4 separate regions of the Homo sapiens genome follow, and all the other regions are reported to be linked to region 1. Evidence: microRNA targets listed by miRTarBase, many of them from high-throughput screens and not tested one by one. Region 1 holds a microRNA gene; each other region holds the end of a gene's coding sequence.
The links. Region 1 holds the annotated microRNA hsa-miR-6776-3p (CAACCACCACUGUCUCUCCCCAG, at 1,770-1,792, opposite strand). A microRNA usually pairs through its seed, bases 2 to 8, with sites in the 3' UTR of a target mRNA and lowers its output. Matches are read on the target gene's strand: a 7mer-m8 pairs with bases 2 to 8, a 7mer-A1 pairs with bases 2 to 7 and ends in A, and an 8mer does both.

Region 2: the mRNA of KIAA0040 is a reported target of hsa-miR-6776-3p. Seed matches in the 3' UTR shown: 7mer-A1 at 2,067-2,073.
Region 3: the mRNA of ASCC1 is a reported target of hsa-miR-6776-3p. Seed matches in the 3' UTR shown: 7mer-m8 at 674-680.
Region 4: miRTarBase lists HOXD9 as a target of hsa-miR-6776-3p. The part of its 3' UTR that is shown has no 7-base or 8-base seed match.

The regions. Positions count from the first base shown.
Region 1 is chr17:2,691,092-2,695,447 of GRCh38, forward strand. MIR6776 (microRNA 6776) reads right to left here and starts at 1,828; the gene lies at 1,770-1,828. It overlaps CLUH (CLUH binding protein of NUMT mRNA), which reads right to left. Exons shown (of 26, transcript NM_001366661.1): 14 at 4,283-4,356; 15 at 4,127-4,189; 16 at 3,766-4,010; 17 at 3,389-3,473; 18 at 3,032-3,185; 19 at 2,809-2,948; 20 at 1,689-1,769; 21 at 1,480-1,605; 22 at 1,270-1,391; 23 at 913-1,006; 24 at 670-804; 25 at 518-591. RefSeq lists enhancers at 119-627, 628-1,135.
Region 2 is chr1:175,157,390-175,161,389 of GRCh38, forward strand. It overlaps KIAA0040, which reads right to left. Exons shown (of 4, transcript NM_014656.3): 4 at 1-3,757. The coding sequence starts at 3,624. The coding sequence ends at 3,325. Among named protein-coding and RNA genes, the nearest start is that of KIAA0040, 33 kb to the right of the region's middle.
Region 3 is chr10:72,093,895-72,097,894 of GRCh38, reverse strand. It overlaps ASCC1 (activating signal cointegrator 1 complex subunit 1), which reads left to right. Exons shown (of 10, transcript NM_001198800.3): 10 at 445-1,863. The coding sequence ends at 561. Among named protein-coding and RNA genes, the nearest start is that of SPOCK2, 7.3 kb to the right of the region's middle.
Region 4 is chr2:176,123,723-176,127,722 of GRCh38, forward strand. HOXD9 (homeobox D9) reads left to right here. Exons shown (of 2, transcript NM_014213.4): 2 at 212-1,215. The coding sequence ends at 453. Among named protein-coding and RNA genes, the nearest start is that of HOXD9, 3.0 kb to the left of the region's middle.

The DNA.
Region 1 (4,356 bases):
CTTGTGGCCACCCCGGGGAGCCCGGGGCCTGCTCCTCAGCCCCCCCCCGCCGCAGGATGGGAAGCGTGGGGAGGGAATGAAGCCGCTTCTTAGGGACTGGTGGGAAAACGCCAAGATACTTTGTGTGAAGCAGAAACACCAAGGTCTTCACTCGCGGAATGCGAGGATGCTGGGGAAGATAAGCGGGGCGGGCCGGGCGCGATGGCTCACGCCTGGAATCCCAGCACTCTGAGAGGCCGAGGCGGGCGGATCGCAAGGTTAAGAGTTCGAGACCAGCCTGGTCAACGTGGTGAAACCCCATCTCTACTACAAACACAAAAATGAGCCGGGCGAGGTGGCGGACACCTGTAATCCCAGCTACTGGGGAGGCTGAGGCAGGAGAATCGCTGAACCCGGGAGGCGGAGGCTGCAGTGAGCCGGGATGGCGCCGCCGCACTCCAGCCCGGGTGACAGGGCGAGACTCCGACTCACAAAAAACCCCCAACCGGGAGACACTCGAGTGGGGCGGAGGCCTCACCTGAGAGGAATGAAGAGGATGCCGTTAATGACGTTCAGCTGCTCCAAGACGCTGGCCATGCTGGGGGCCGTGAACTGCGGGGCGGGGAAACCAGCGGTGAGCGGGGCTCCCGCGCTCGCCGGGCCGGAGGGGCCGCTCCGCCCCGGACTCACCTTGAGGGGCGGGATGTTGGCGCTGGAGCCGTTGCGGTAGATCTCGTTCATGGTGCGCTGCAGGGCCACGGCCTGCTGGGTCAGGCACTTGAGGTACTCGGAGCTTTCCTTGGTCTTCTCATGGTCCTCGCCCAGCTGCGGGGAGGCGGGAAGGGATCAGGCCCCCCCGTGCCCCCGCGGCCCCGCCCCCGCCCCGCCACGCCCCCGCCCCGCCCCCGCCCCCGCCACGCCCCCGCCGCGCACCTGCGTCTTGTAGATGGTGTAACCCTCCTTCTCGTGCTGCAGGGCCGACCGGAACTCAGCTTTGCTCTCGTAGACTCGGGCGACAAGGTGGTGGCTGCCGGGAGGCGCGGCGCGGGGCGAGGGAAGGGCATAAGTGGGCTGGGTGTGGGGGCCTGACTCGGGGGCCCGGGGTCTCCCGTAGATCCCTCCCTGGAAGCCACCGAGGGGAACAGCAAGTCCAGGGCTCAGGGAAGAGGGGGAGGTCGAGAGAAATTTTCTCGGGTGGAGGAAGACAGGAGCACTGGGTCTCTTCCCCGCCCCCGCCGGCTGCCCCGCAGGCCTCCGCCGGCCTTGGCGTTTGGACGGGCGGCCCCTCACCTGAGGGCCACCTTGAGGGCCTTGGGCCCGTGGTACTTGGTGCTGACGGCCAGCGCGTTCTCCAGGAAGCGCAGCGACAGGTCGTACTCCATCACCCCGTGCAGCACCAGCCCGATGTTGTTCTGGGGGCAGGCGGTGGGGGGCCCTGGTCAGCTCCCGGTCCCCTGGGATGGAGCTGGGTCCCTGCCGCCCCCCCGCCCCAGCACTCACGTCCAGCAGCGCCATCTCGGGGTGGTCTTCCCCGAACACCAGCAGCATGAGGTAGCGGGCGCGGTACAGCAGGCTCAGGGCGGTGGACAGCTGGCTGCTGGCGAAGCAGTACAGGGCCAGGTGCATCTGCGGGCGGGGCGGAGACAGGTCAGGGTGGCCGCGGACCCAGCCCCTCGCATCCCCCGGCGCGGGCGGCACTCGCGACTCACGTATTCCTGGATGGTGTTGGGGTGCTCGGTGCCCATCACCCGCTCGCTCATCAGCACCGCCTTCTGCTGGTTACTCAGGGCCTGGGGAGAGACAGTGGTGGTTGCCGCGGCGTGGGAACCCCCACTGCACCCAGAGCCCGCCTGGCCCCGGCCCAGCAGCCCACGGTGCCGCTCTGCAGGCTCCTGTCCCCTCCGGCTGCGCCCAGCACAGTGCAGCAGGGGGGAGGGGGATCAGCAGCAGCTGCTGCCACACCTTGAAGGGCAGGTCACGCTCCACAGAGAGCTCCACACACCCATGTCTTACACCCAACAAAATCTCCACAAACACCCAAATACAAACCTAAAACTACTAAAAATGTTACAAAAAAAAAAAAAAAGCCTGAGCAGGGGTGGGTCCCTTGAGGTCAGGAGTTTGAGACCATCCTGGCCAACATGATGAAACCCCATCTCTACTAAAAATACAAAAATTAGCTGGGTGTGCTGGCTCACGCCTGTAATCCCAGCTACTCGGGAGGCTGAGGTGGGAGAATCGCTTGAGCCCAGGAGGTTGAGGCTGCAGGGAGTCGATATCACGCCACTACACTCCAGCCTGGGTGACAAAGCAAGACCCTGTCTCAGAAACAAACAAACAAACAAACAACCCACCCATTTATAAACAGAAGAAAAAACAGTCCCTTTGCAGGGAGTAGGGATCCTAAGACATGCTAACCCTGAAACAGCCCTGGCCAGGCAGGGCACCCAGAACCCCACCACAGCCTCCACCAGCCCCGGCCAGGCAGGGCACCCAGAACCCCACAGCCTGCACTGGGCACAGAGGACGTGGGAGCTCGGTGGCATGCTTCCTGCCCACTCACGGAGTCTCAGGAGGCGTCCTTGCTGACGCCCTGTGGGGGGGTCCCCTGCCATCGCCTCCCAGAACTGACCTCACCGCAGCACAGGGTGCTCCTGAGCTCTCCCGCTCGGGACACAGTTACAGAGGGGTGGAGCCAGGGGTGGCCTGGGCAGAACCAGCGACTTCCTGGGGTCTCCCTGGACTCCACCCACTCCTCCGTCAGGGGCCCCCTCACTCCCCATCCCCCAACACGAGGCCAGGCCTTTGCTGCCACAGCCCAGAGGGTACCTCTGCGTAGTCGCCCATGATGTAGTGGAGGCGGGCGAGGAGGCGCAGGCAGGCGCAGGTCTCCACGTGCATGGCTCCGTAGACGTTGTTAAACAGGTTCAGGGCCTCATTGATGAGCTCACAGCCCTCCTTCAGGAAGCCTGCAGGGCACCCCCAGGGGTGGCAAGGTCAGGACGGGCCATGGGGAACCCCCACCTCCACCCAGCCCCACCTGGCCACACACCCTGCTGCACTTTGGCCTGCCCGCTCTGGAAGAAATGGAAGGCATCCGAGGCCTTGGGGTTGACGTGCTTGACCACGGGGAAGATGTTGAGCACGTCCTCCTCGGTGAACGCGGGCTTGTGGCGACTGTCGAAGCTGTACTCCTTCAGCAGGACCTGGGGGGCAGCCCCCCCACCACAGGAAGCCTCAGGCCCAGGTTCAGCGGGTTGGCACCTCCCAACCCACCAACGCTTGCGCACAGACGGCTACCGTGAAAAAGCCACTTCCCCTGTGGCCCTGGCCAGGAGTGGGAGCCTGCAGCAGGGACGCAGCGGGGACACAGCGGGGACACAGCGGGGATGCTGTGAGCCATGCCCACCTGGATCCCTGTTTTCAGCGAGATCTCCCGCAGGAGCGTTATCTTCTGCAGGCCGTAGGTCTCCACAGCCTGGTCCACGGTCTCACTGAGGAGGGAGCAGGGGGCCTGAGCAGCCCAAGCACCGCCGGGCCCCCCCAACACCGCCCCACCCAGCTCCCCAACGCTGTCCAGCCCGGGCCCCCAACACTGCCCCACCCGGCCCCCGGGAGCCTCCCGGCTGCCCTCACCCTCCAGCACCCAGTGATCTCCACAGCTGCTCCCTCTTCTCTCTGACTCCCTGGCCTATGACCACAGGCCTTAGACGCCATCTGGGAGCAGGTGGTGGCCGCCTCATCTGCCCAATCCCACCCACCCCACCGCCCCTGCCCCGCACGCACCACTCGAGGTCGAAGTCAAAGTAGTTCTTGGCCTCCTGGCAGATGTTCTTCCAGAGCTCCTGGGGGGTCATGACAGCCCAGGCTGTGTTATCTGCAGCCCCCGGGGGCCGGTTTTTCCTCCTCTTATTCCGCTTCTTGGAGACCAGCTCGTCGGCGGGCAGGTGGGCCACGGGGTTTGGGTAGGAGCTCAGGAAGCAGTTCAGGAAGTGGCTGATGGCGGCTGAGAGGCCGGAGAGCTCGACTCCCTGCGAGGCAGGTTGGATCCGAGTCATGAGGGCCCTCAGCCCCACCTCAGGCTCTTTCCCGACGCCCCACACCACCCTGGGAGGCCATGGCCAGCCGCAGAGCGGACGGGTGGCACCTGTAAGTACGTCTTGAAGATGTGCTTGGCCGAGCGGGTGATGAGTTCTCCAATGCCGATTTTCTGGAAGGATTCAGAAGGGAGGTCTTGGTCAGGCCCCCGGCCTCCATCCCAGTCCCACAGCTCCCGTTCCGCCCCACCCCGGGCAGCACTCACAAAGACGTGGTCCAGCTGGTGGCGGGCCGGGCTCCGCAGCACCAGCTCCAGCACCTTGCCCAGGTAGCGCATGT
Region 2 (4,000 bases), not on the chromosome of region 1:
ACTCTACCATGGCGAAGGCGGTGACCAGGGAGGGCTGGGACATTTGTGTCACAGAAAGAGTCCCTGCATTGATCATTTCTGAGTGATGTCTGAGTGGGGGTAATACCTAATGTTAAGAGAGTAACCATCTGACTACATCAAGACTTTTCATTTTCAAAGTATTTTATTTAAATAAATTTTTCTTTTGTGTGTGTTTGAATTTTACAGAAAAAAATACTGACAAATACTATACAGCTTGGACCCTTTATATTTTTCTTGGAAAGGTGGCTGCCATTTTTCTACCTTTCTCCCTCCCTGCTCCCCCCAAGAAAAAGAAACATGGAATCCATTGAGCAATGGGGAAAGGAGCAATGGGGAAAGGCCTCCTCTGGCTGCCGTCCGGAGCCTGGCTAAAGCTGCTCAGAAGTCCAGGCCTAGGGGATGTCTTTCTCGAGCCTGTGCTGGTCTAGGAAGCCTCTTCTTTAGGAATCATTTTTTTGTCCCCCGTGAACTTACCCTCCCCAGATGAGTCAAGCAGTCTCTGGTCCTGAGGTCCCATGGGTTGCCAGTGGCAGTTCAGGGACAGAGGCTGGAAGGAGTGAAAATGGAGAGGAATAAAGGGCTGGGGCTGGTCTGGTGCAGGCAGAAGAGGGAATCAGAGAAGCATAAAACATGGAGAAAAAGATGAGAAGGAAGTGGAAAGAAGAGAGTGGATATCAACAATGGCCTTAGGCTCCTTTCATGCACCTGTTTATTTAACAAAACGTTTAGGGCCTATCCTGCACTGGGACTCCTCTAGTTACGCCAGGAAAGGTTGTCAGGGGAGTCTGTGATGGGGAAAAGAGAGGCCCCATTCTGGGTTTGGCTCTTCTGAGTCATCGGCTGTGGAAGTGACTGAGAAGTGAGTTTCTGGGTGTTTCATCCCTGGGGTGAGAGCAAGTCCATTGGATTAGGAGACAGCAGGGACATTGTGCCTGGAGATAGAGGCCTTGTCATGGCAATGACAACTGACTGCTGTCTTAATTCAAAGGAGCAAGCAGTTGCCATGGAAACCATGTTACTTGTATGGTCCCGGATCCCGGTGATCCGCCCTCCTAGATCATATCTGACACTACGTCTCAGCTGTCAGCCTCCACCTCTCCCCAGCCATCCATTCTAGGGGGACTGAGAGGTGGAGACAGGAAGGGCAGCTTGTCCTGGTGAGCAGTGGCAGTTGTGGGGAGATGTCTTCCACATCCCTGGGTTTGGTGCAGGCAGATGGCAAGTCATTCTGTTATGTGAAGGGCACAGCCAGAGGCCCCATGACAAACTCTCTATGTGACAAGGGGATAGAGAACCAGAGTGCTTCTTTCTCTGGTCAAAGGGGTTGATGAGTGGGAGGCCTGAGTGCTTAGGCAGTTTATGGCCATATAGGGTGAGAGGGCAAATGTGACTGGCTATAAAATATATGCAGGTTTAAATTATGATTCACAGGGTCATCTGTTAGAAAACCCTGGTGCAAGGGTCACCACTAAATGCCCACCCTCCACAGGCCTAAAGTACACCTGGAGGGCAGGTGAGTACCAAGCAGCCCAAGTGAGCAAATAGAATATATCTTTCCTTTAATGCAATCTTATAGAATTTAGTTTTTTGCTACTATAAATATCATAGTTTAGCTACATTATTAATTAGATAGCAATTTTGCCACTGTGTAGAATAGCTTCCTTGGGAAAATATTTCAAGAGAGCTGCCCAGCATATTTGTAAATAAACTTCTAGAGCATAACTTGCTCCCAAGGAGTGAATTGTCCATCTTTGTAATACAGTCACAATACAATAAAAATACCAAGCAGTTCATCCTATAAGTGGATTAACTCTGCTTCCCAACCTCACTCTGGCGGGGAAAGCCCTCCTCAGCTCACTGTGGATCTAATTTACATGTCCTCACATACCTCAAGGCACATGTGTCACCTACATGTGCTCTCCAGCATTAAACACCCAATTTCATCCATTGCAGCAATTAGTGGGCTCACTTAGAAGAGAAGATCACTCGGGGAGAACTGGTGAGGTATTACAAGCTTACCCTTAACAACATCACATATCCAACAGTAACCACAGTTAGTTATAAGTACCTACTGTGTGCAAGGCACTTGCCTGAGCTTCAATATAAATATAAATAAACCTCTTTATAGCTTCATCCTACTTTCATTTAAACTCTGTTACCTCTGCATCCCACCTGTGCCATACCGTGCACACATCACAACCTTATGACATCACTTCCAGTGTTGCCTTCTGTGAGACTGCACTGATGATTGTCTAGTTCCTTCCCTGCTGGAAACTTTGGTTATATAGGAGATACCTAGCTCAGGTGTAGCATCTCCTCACCCTTTCCATCTGTAAACATTGCACAGGTACACAGTTGCAGTCCACTGACATAAATGAGTGGGCTTCCATAATTTTCTAGCAGTCACCACCAAGAGCTCTTTGTTCTTGCTTGGAGAAAGGCACTTTGCTGAGTGGTTTGCGGGGGTAATGTTTCACAGAGAGGTCTTGGATCACATTAAACACCTCTCAGTGGCAATGAGGACGGACTTTGTCATGAGTTACAAGAAAAGAGCTTTCAATGAATTTTGAACCATCACACTTTAAACATCTTGGCACAGGTGAGGGGTCAGAGGCACAGAAACTTGGTGTGTCTGTATCAAGACACACAAGGGTGGGGACTGTAGCAGGTTGCTGGAATGTCCAATTATGAGTACTTCCAGTAAAAGTTTATGTGTAGAGTTAGAAATAGGAAAGCATGCATCTGTAACCTGAGTGGTTTATGGAATAGATGGTGTATGGGGGCCTTGCTGGTTAGGAAATTGTATATATGTGTCTGAATCTGGCAAGGCTTTCCCATGAGACATTTTTGTGACTGTAGATAATGTACTTCCCTGCACAAAGTACATAGCCAATGACCATTTGATGAGCAGAATATACTTGCCCACGTACCTGCTACCTGAATTTGTGTGTGTGTGTGTTACGTGCATGTGCACACACTTGGGAACCATATTGAGATGTATGGATAAATGTTCTTTGTGCTTTGCATGTGGGGTATGCCAGAGACAGGTGGGAGGCATGCCTGGGTCTGCAGTAAGGAGCATTGCTATTGGACACATAGCTGCCAAGACAGTATCCAAGAATTGTCCACGTGGTCCCTGGGACTGCCCTCCACTGGGACACTTAGTCTGAGGTTTGTTCCTTGGTTGAGTAGTTACTCTGTGGACATGGACATAGTGCATTATTTCAGGGGTTCCTGAAATGTCTGTGTGTGGTCAGAAGGAGGCTTAGCCCCAGAAAGGAAACACCTCTGCTTCCTGCCTAACTAAACAGGCAGTGATGGTCTCTTCTCCATCTGGAGAAGCTTGGGTTGAGCAGAGATCCAGAGGTCTTCTTCATCCTTCTTCTTCTTCTTCTTCTTCTTCTTCTTGTTCTTCTCTGGCTGCTGGCCCCTCTTGCCTGGTGGGCTCCAGCAGCAATGGCAACAGATGAAGAGGAGTGTGATGATCACCAAGAGTGGCAGGCCCAGGAGGACTCCCAGGCAGATGGTGTTGTAGATGCCTTCTTGGTGTTTGGTCAAGATGGTGTCCCAGATAGAGCTGAAGAAGGCACTGATTCTCTCCATGGTGCTTGGCTAGATTAGGGCCAGAGAACCCTCTCGGCTTACAAGCAGGTCCTGGGCTCAAAAGGATGCAACCTTGACCACTTGTAATTTATTCCTCTTCCAGCTTTGGGTTTGGGCATGCCACTGGCAGCACCTGAAGAGATTAAAACAGACAACTGAAGAGAAATGCAGGGGGACTGGTCTACAATTTTAATAGTGTCATAGATTTTAGGCTTAGGAAAGGGGAAGGAATTGAAGATTTCCAGGGTTCAGTAAACTTGTATTGACTCAATAAACAAGATAAATGCATGCATGTAATCAATAAGCATCAACTAATTCTTGCTATGTACACACATTATATTGGGCTTAGGATATAAAAATGAATAGTATATCAGGT
Region 3 (4,000 bases), not on the chromosome of region 1:
TGGCGTTGATTAGATATATGTTACGTCAAATTTAACCCTGGTGCAACAAAGCCGAGATCCCTGCATGGTCAGTCACTGGAAGTCAGAAGCAGCCTGGTCAGACTCTGTGAGTCAGGGTGTGGCCATGGGGCGTTTGCTATAAGTTCTTGGTCATATCTGGTCAGTAGATGAATTTCGGATTTGACTTTTCAGAACCTCTTTCTCTGGTGCATTTGTCAGGGGAGACTTTAGAATTAATCAGAGAGAAGAGCTGGCTGTTCTTTTCTCACTCCCACCCCCATCCCTCCTCTCCTGGATCATTATTCAGAGTAAACACTGAAAAGAAAAAGCATGAGAGATTTGTTGGGATTGTTGTGGTTTGGTGTTTTTACAAGATAATCTGATGTTTAATATTTTCATCTATACTTTAAATATTCATTCTGGGTTTTTATTCTTCCTTTTCAGTTGTTTGAGAACTTCTACTTTGGCTCCCTAAAGCTGAATTCAATTCACATCTCTCAGAGGTTCACCGTAGACAGCTTTGGAAACTACGCTTCCTGTGGACAAATTGACTTCTCCTGAGGTGGATCTTGGAAAGCACTAGAAACTAAACATCTTCACCAGGTGCTGAAGAAAAGTGTCTTCGTTTTAATTGCCAAGCAGGGATGTGGACATTTGGATGGTGACTTTCCTGGGTGGTTCCCCATAGATTCACCATTGCCTCTAATGGTGTCTACACCCGTCATACTACCAGCTGAGATGGTGGTGGGCATAAGGAGAATTTGTGCCTATAACCCTTAGTGTGTTCTGGTTTTTTTTCTTTTAATTTTTAAATTGTCGTAAAATACTCATAAAACATACTGTCTTCACCATTTTTAAGTGCACAGTTCAGTAACGTTAACTGTTAATACATTCATAATGCTGTGTGGCCGTCACCGCCGTCCATCTCCATAGGCTTCTCAGCTTGTAAAATGGAAACTGTACCCATTAAACAGTAATTCCCACTCCTCCCAGCCCCCGCAGCCACCATTCTGCTTTCTGTCTCTCTGGTTTTGACTATTCTCAGTATCTCATATAAGTGGAATCATACAGTGACTTGTCTTTTTGTGACTGGCTTATTTCACTTAGCATAATGTCCTCAAGGTTCATCCATGTTGTGTCAGGTGACAGGATTTCCTTCCTGTATTATACATATAATGGAATGTTCCGTTACATGTGCGTACCACACTCTGTTCCTCCATCAGTGAACACTTGGCTTGCTTCCTCTTGACTATTGGGAGTAGTGCTAATACAGACACGGGGGTGCAAATATCTCTTTGAGACTCTGCCTTTAATTCCTTTACCACCCAGAGTTTTATCTTTAGCAAAATAACCATTAAAGTTGTTTGCCTTTTACTTTGCTTGGTCTATCATTTTCCTACCAAAGTTTGTCCTCTTAATATTTGTTGGATTCCTGTTCCTTCACCCCATCCCCACCCTCATCTTCCCATGCCCCTGATGGAGTTGCAGTGTTGCAGCCCTTTTTTGTTTACTTTTCAAGGCAGCAGCAAAAGAAACTGATGATATCAGCAGGACTGTGCAGAGTTCCCTGGAAGAATGTCAGCCACAGGAGGCCCTCACTCCTCCCTCACCACGGACCAGCAGAGGGAGGCGGGAATGCTGGGGAGCCCCAGCCTCCCACCCCTGCCTCCTCACATTCTTCCTCCCTCCATGTCCTCTCCTTCTTCTCCTTCCTTATTCTTGCCTTGATTCTTTCTCTCTTTATATTCTTTAACTGCACTTCTGAACTCTGTGTTAAGTTGCTACATTGTGAGGACTGTGTCTAACAGTGAGATTTATTATTGGGACTGCACAAATCACTTGTGAATAAAATGTTTAACGGTGTTTCTGTTAGTATGATCACATAGTTCACATAGTTTGAATTTGACCCCTTCCTGTGTTGGGATACAATGTTGCCCTCACTTATTTACCAGCATAGCTGGATCATTCATGGAGGACTTACATATTAGTACCTGCAAGGTTGATTTTTTTTTTTTTTTTTTTTTTGAGACGGAGTCTCGCTCTGTCGCCCAGGCTGGAGTACGGTGGCACGATCTCGGCTCACTGCAAGCTCCGCCTCCTGGGTTCACACCATTCTCCTGCCTCAGCCTCCTGAGTAGCTGGGACTACAGGCGCCCGCCACTGCACCCGGCTAATTTTTTTTTTTTTTGTATTTTTAGTAGAGACGGGGCTTCACCTTGTTAGTCAGGATGGTCTCAATCTCCTGACCTCGTGATCTGCCCGTCTCAGCCTCCCAAAGTACTGGGATTGCAGGCGTGAGCCACCGTGCCTGGCCGCAAGGTTGATTTTTTTCCCAGAAGGCCTCCTCTTTCTACGGATATTCATTTTCTATACAAATTGAGATTTTACTTCACCTCAGATTGTTGTTAGGTGGCACTTGGGAATGAGTGCTCCAGGGACAGTGCTGAATTCTGAAGCTGACTATGGAGTTAATGCCCCATCTCATCTTGATGTGCCTCTCTCTCGGTTTCTTTCTGACAAGCCATTGGGCAACCTCAGCCAGGAAGTAAATGTCACTTCTTTTGAGTTTCTGAGACTTATGACTTAACATTTGTAGGAAACTTTTTTTTCTAAGTTTTTTGTCTTTGGAAAATTTAGCTTTATATATTGAATACCAAATTCTTTTTTTTTTTTTTTTTTTTTTGAGACAGGGTCTCACTCTGTCACCCAGTCTGGAGTGCAGTGGCGCAATCATGGCTCACTGCAGCCTTGACCTCTTGGGCTCAAGCTATCCTCCCACCTCAGCCTACCGAGCAGCTGGGACTACAGGCGTGCACCACCATGCCTGGCTACTTTTTATAAAAAAATTTTTTGTAGAGATGGGGTCTCACTGTGTTGCCCAGGCCGATCTCGAACTCCTGGGCTCAAGACATCTTCCTGCCTTGGCCTCCCAAAGTGTTAGGATTACTGCTGTGAGCCACCACACTGGGCCCAAATACCAAATTCTAAATAGAATTGGAAATTGTGTTATTGAGGATTTAGTGATTACTCTTCCCTATGTCTTGTTAAGTAATTCTTCTCAAGTTGTTTGCCTTTTTCCCTCTGTTTCTCTCACCAGTTATACAGTGGGGTTTTCCAGAGGCTCTATGACGCGACAGCATCATCACTCTGGTGGTTAATGGAATGTGTGTTTGTGTATTTCTGAGTTCTCTAGAGTTTTGTAAGTTGGTAGGTATTGGTAGAATTGGAAAATTTTTAACATTTAAATTTTAAAAAATTCCTTTTTTTTCACATGCTGTGGTAGGCAGAGATAAAATATTCTCTCATGAAGTCTGTATTCCAATTTTGGGGACAGTATAGCTCTAAGGAAATACAGTTTTCAGTGCTGTTGTGGAAGAGGGAGTAACAGTTTTGATGTAGAACTTTTATGAAAAAGCAAAATGGTAGAGAGCAACAACAGTAAAAGGGTTAGAGTTAAGGTTCCCCTCTCACCAAATGATAATGGGGTAAATGTTGGAGGATTTGCTGCTGCTGTGCTTACAATCAAACCTTCCTTCATATTACTGTTTTGTAATTCATTCTACACTGAAATAGTTCATTGTACCTAACACTGCTCCAGCCAGCTTTTGAGGCACTGACTTCACCCTCAATTTCTCTTAAGAGGAAGAGGGAAAAAAATCTCTCACTCGCTACTTCACAGAATCTGTGTTGTTATACATGGAACTTTGTTATGGAGAGTAATTTTTATTTTAGACACATTGTAAATGTTTCTTACAATGATTATTTTTAAAGCAAGCTCTAGAGTTTCCAAAACTGGGCATTGAGTAGAATCCAGCATCGTAATAATTCAGATTTGGTTCCTGTTTGCCCTTGTACTGTGCTGGAGCTCACTGTCCTGGAGCTCAAGGGAACCCACTGGCACTAGAGGTGTATTGAGTTGAGTCAATGGAACACCTGTCAGCTTCCATCTCGATACCATAGGGAGCATGAATGTTCAAGCTCTTGCTGCTAGAAGTGATGA
Region 4 (4,000 bases), not on the chromosome of region 1:
AAGAGCTTCCCATAACCACCTACCCTGGGCGCTCAGTTAGTACGGTAAACAGAGCGCGAGCATTAAGGCTTTTTATGATAATTCCCCACAAGTTGTGAAAAGCGACCATCCTTGGTGAAATTAATTTAACGACCTCTCTTCCCCACCCTGTGGTCTCTCCCTGCCTCCCCTCCTCTCCTCTCTCCCCGTCTCCAAACCTCCCTCTTTGTAGACAACCCCGCCGCGAACTGGATCCACGCTCGCTCCACCCGGAAAAAGCGCTGTCCCTACACCAAATACCAGACGCTTGAGCTGGAGAAAGAATTCCTCTTCAACATGTACCTCACCCGGGACCGGCGCTACGAGGTGGCCAGGATTCTCAACCTAACAGAGAGACAGGTCAAAATCTGGTTTCAGAACCGTAGGATGAAAATGAAAAAGATGAGCAAGGAGAAATGCCCCAAAGGAGACTGACCCGGCGCGGTGCTGGCGGGAGCGCTCAAGGGCAGCGGATTTGTTGTTGTTGCTGTTTTCCTTTGTGGGTGTTTGGTGCTTGATTTCCAGAAACTCTCCAGCGACTTGGACTTCTTCTTCTTTTTTTTTTTCTTTTTAGATAGAAGTGACTGTGTGGTTGGTCTCTGAGGTATTTGGGGGACTCTGTATTTGCTCGTTTACGTGTTGGAAAAACCAAGTGGCTTTGGGGTTTCGCCCTATCCCACTCCCTCTCTTTCCTGCTCCATTGGTTCCTTAAGAAATGCTATATTTTGTGAGTGCAAGCTGGCTTGGGGAGCCCTCTCTTGTGTAAATGTCCCCCATGTTTCTGAAAAGTGCTGTAGTTTAGTCCCCTCACCCCCAGCACTGCCCAAACAGGGGCCAAGTGCGCCCCAATTCCAAGAATGAAGGCAGAGCGACAACAGTGCGGACACCCCGGCTGCTAGCCCACGGTGAAGCCCGGCGGGGTTGCCCACCAGTTGCGAAAGCCCCCTTTCCTCAGGGAGCACGCGGGACCTCGGTGGAGATCTCCAGTGAGGCTTAGAGGAGCCCAGGGCCTCGGGCGGGTTGGGGTTTGTCCTCAGTGCATTGGACGCGCTGCTCTCTCCCCTGAAGGCTGGGCTCGCGTGGGCGGCCGCGGGTGGTGGCCCTCCCGGTTCCTGCCCGAGGACCAGTTGTAAATGTTACTGCTTCCTACTAATAAATGCTGACCTGATCAAATGGAGCCCAGACGCTGGCCCTAAACATTGTGTGCCTGCTTTCTCTGCCTCTCTGCAAAATATCACACTCAGGATATTTCTCCTCTACCCCTGGGAGTGAGACATTGTTAAAAATTCAGGGCCCTTCCACCTGACAGATCTCTCTGATGTGTCTCTGCCTTCTCTGCCTCACATCCCTTTGTGTAGGCAGATGCAGCAGCACAGACCCTGTGGGGGGACATTGGTGCCTCCCCAAGCCTGGTTCAAGGTCCTCCACGAACTCTGTGCTTGGGCCCAGTGTTAGCCTTGCAGAAGCGCCCAGAAGAGCCAGCAGGCCCCAGAAGCCAGGCACTTTCAGGCTGGGGCTTGGGTACACAGCACCCTAACCTTCCCTGGGCTCCTGAAGCCCCAGATGCCAAACCCCTCTCCAAACAAGGGAAAGGCCAACTCTACACTCTGGAGCAACTGTCCCAGCTCGGTGGGGCTAGCTGGCTCCGGGAGGTCCCAGCTGGTCAGGCTGTGAGCTTCTGCTCCTCCCCACCAAAGCCCCAAAGTGACCTTAGCGATCAAAATGGTCAAGGCTCTCCTCCCCAGCCACCTCCATTTCACCGCCCCCTTCCCCCCACCCAGCTTCTGTGTATGTTTAGCCCCCAGCTTGGCCCTCTGAGGGCTGCATTCAGGGGCTAAAATGAAGGTCATTGTAAGTGAGGGTTTGGGTGAGCACAGCATTTGCAGGCCAAAGAGGCAGCACTGCCAAGTGGCCTGAGCTGGGTGGAAGGTGGGGGCGGTGGCAGAGATCTTGGGGGATCCCAATGAAAGAGGGGACGCGAAGAAAAAGCATAGGGGGGCTGGGAGGGAAAGCCAAGGAAGGCCCAGATCCGGCAGAAGGTGCTGCGCACCCCTGCCACTGTGGCCAGCTGGGTACCTAGGGCTCTTTGAAAACAGGAAGAGCCGAGGTGTCATAAAGCCATCTAGCGGGCCAGACGTCTGGAGGTAATGAGTTTACGACAGGCCCAGTGCTTTGCTTTGAAACCATCTCATTTTGATGTTTGTGTTTGTGGGAGAAAAGGAAAAATGCAGACAAAACTGGGTCTTAAAATCTAGACAATAAAATATAAACAAGACTGCGTTGGACCAAGAAGGCAGGGGCATGGGAGCCCCCAGGTGAGGTGTGAGCACCTAGGAAGTAAACATGAAAGAGGTAGGAAGGAAGAGGTGAATGAATTTCTGATTTTTGAAATGAACCAGGTAATGGAAGTAGCCTAAGGAGATGGCATTTTACAATATTTTGACTATGACCACGGTTTAGCTGGTTCTTTAGAAACAAACAAACAAAAAAATTGGCCTGTTATCTGGGGATAGGGTGGTTAGTGATCTTAGGTCATTTACCCAGGTGAGAGTCTCCCAGAAGTGTGGTTCGCGGGAAAAGATGAAGTTAGATGCCTATTCACAAGAATCTCTGGCCCTCCACTCCAAACTTTGAAGCAAAATGTTGTTGAAATTTATGTCTATTCACTTATAAAAAAATACAATTGTTACACCTAAACTGGAGGAAAGCAGTTTTGAAGATGAGTAAAAAGATTAACCTAACAGGAAACACTTAAGCCAATTGAATAGTCATTGCTTTTAAAAAAAATTCTAGTGGAATGCTTAGTTCAATGACTTTTGATATATATTTTTAAAATCCCATTTATTGTCCATAGAAATTCCAACAAACAGAAGCGCAAAGGGACTTTCCAGACAGCCACTCAGAGATCCAGCAAAAAGCTTTTGATTTGGCTTCGATTCCCCCCAAAATCGGCCACCTAAGTGGGCCCCAAAGCATTAAAGTTACAGTGTTAAAGTAGCAAATATTCATGATTTAATCCTAAAAGTAACAGCTGTAAGAGAAAAACAAAAACATAACAATACTTGATTTCTGTAATTTCTTGGTTGCCAAAGTGTCTGGTTCCTCTGGAAAATAAAAAGCCTCTTGGCAGTTGATATTTAGAAAGTTGTAGGTTTTGTTAAATCTAGCCTGTCCTATAATTGTTTTAAAAGGCACAGCTGGGCGGTTACAGCATGGGGACTTTTGGTGTCTGGCAAAAGAAGGGCTGGAAGCTTTTGGAAAAGACACTACTGGAAGCTGTTGGGAGCACTGATTAGAATATCCTAGGCATACAGGAGCTCCTGCTTGCTGCTCTTGACTTGTTGACAGTCACAGGAATGAAGCATTATTAGTGTCAGCAGTCCAAGCCCCAAATTGAAGAACGAGATTAGAATTGGTTTGAGATGAATAAAAATTAAATTCAGTGGACTGGAGGTGGCATTTGGCCACTAGAGAGCGCTGTTGCTCCACTTTCTGATCTCGTAAAGCTGGAATTGCGGCGGAGAAAGGTTTTGATTAAAAATATTAACAATCTTATTTTTAATCCGAAATTAGGATAATTTTAACCAAAAATAAACAAGGTGTACTATTAATTTCTGTGTTTGCTGGGCATAAAATTTTGGCTCGATCATGGCTTCAGAAACTTTGGACTGTGGCACAGCTGAAACTATAAAACATGATAAATTAATGTATTATATCAAAACAGAAAGCTGTAAAAAGCATAGATCTTTTCTTACTAAGTTAATCGCGCTCTTTTTCTACTCATATTATAAACGGAATGCTTAAATAAATGTTAAAAACTGTTTTGTCCCAAGAGGAAATGTTGTAACGTTTTCTAAATTTGGCCTGAATGTCTATAAATGAATTTTCTAGTGTTCATTTTTCTTTTATTCCCCCGAGGAATCACACAGTTCTACAAGATGCCTGGTATTGTTGAGATCCAGGCTCTTTCATTTTCCCCCCC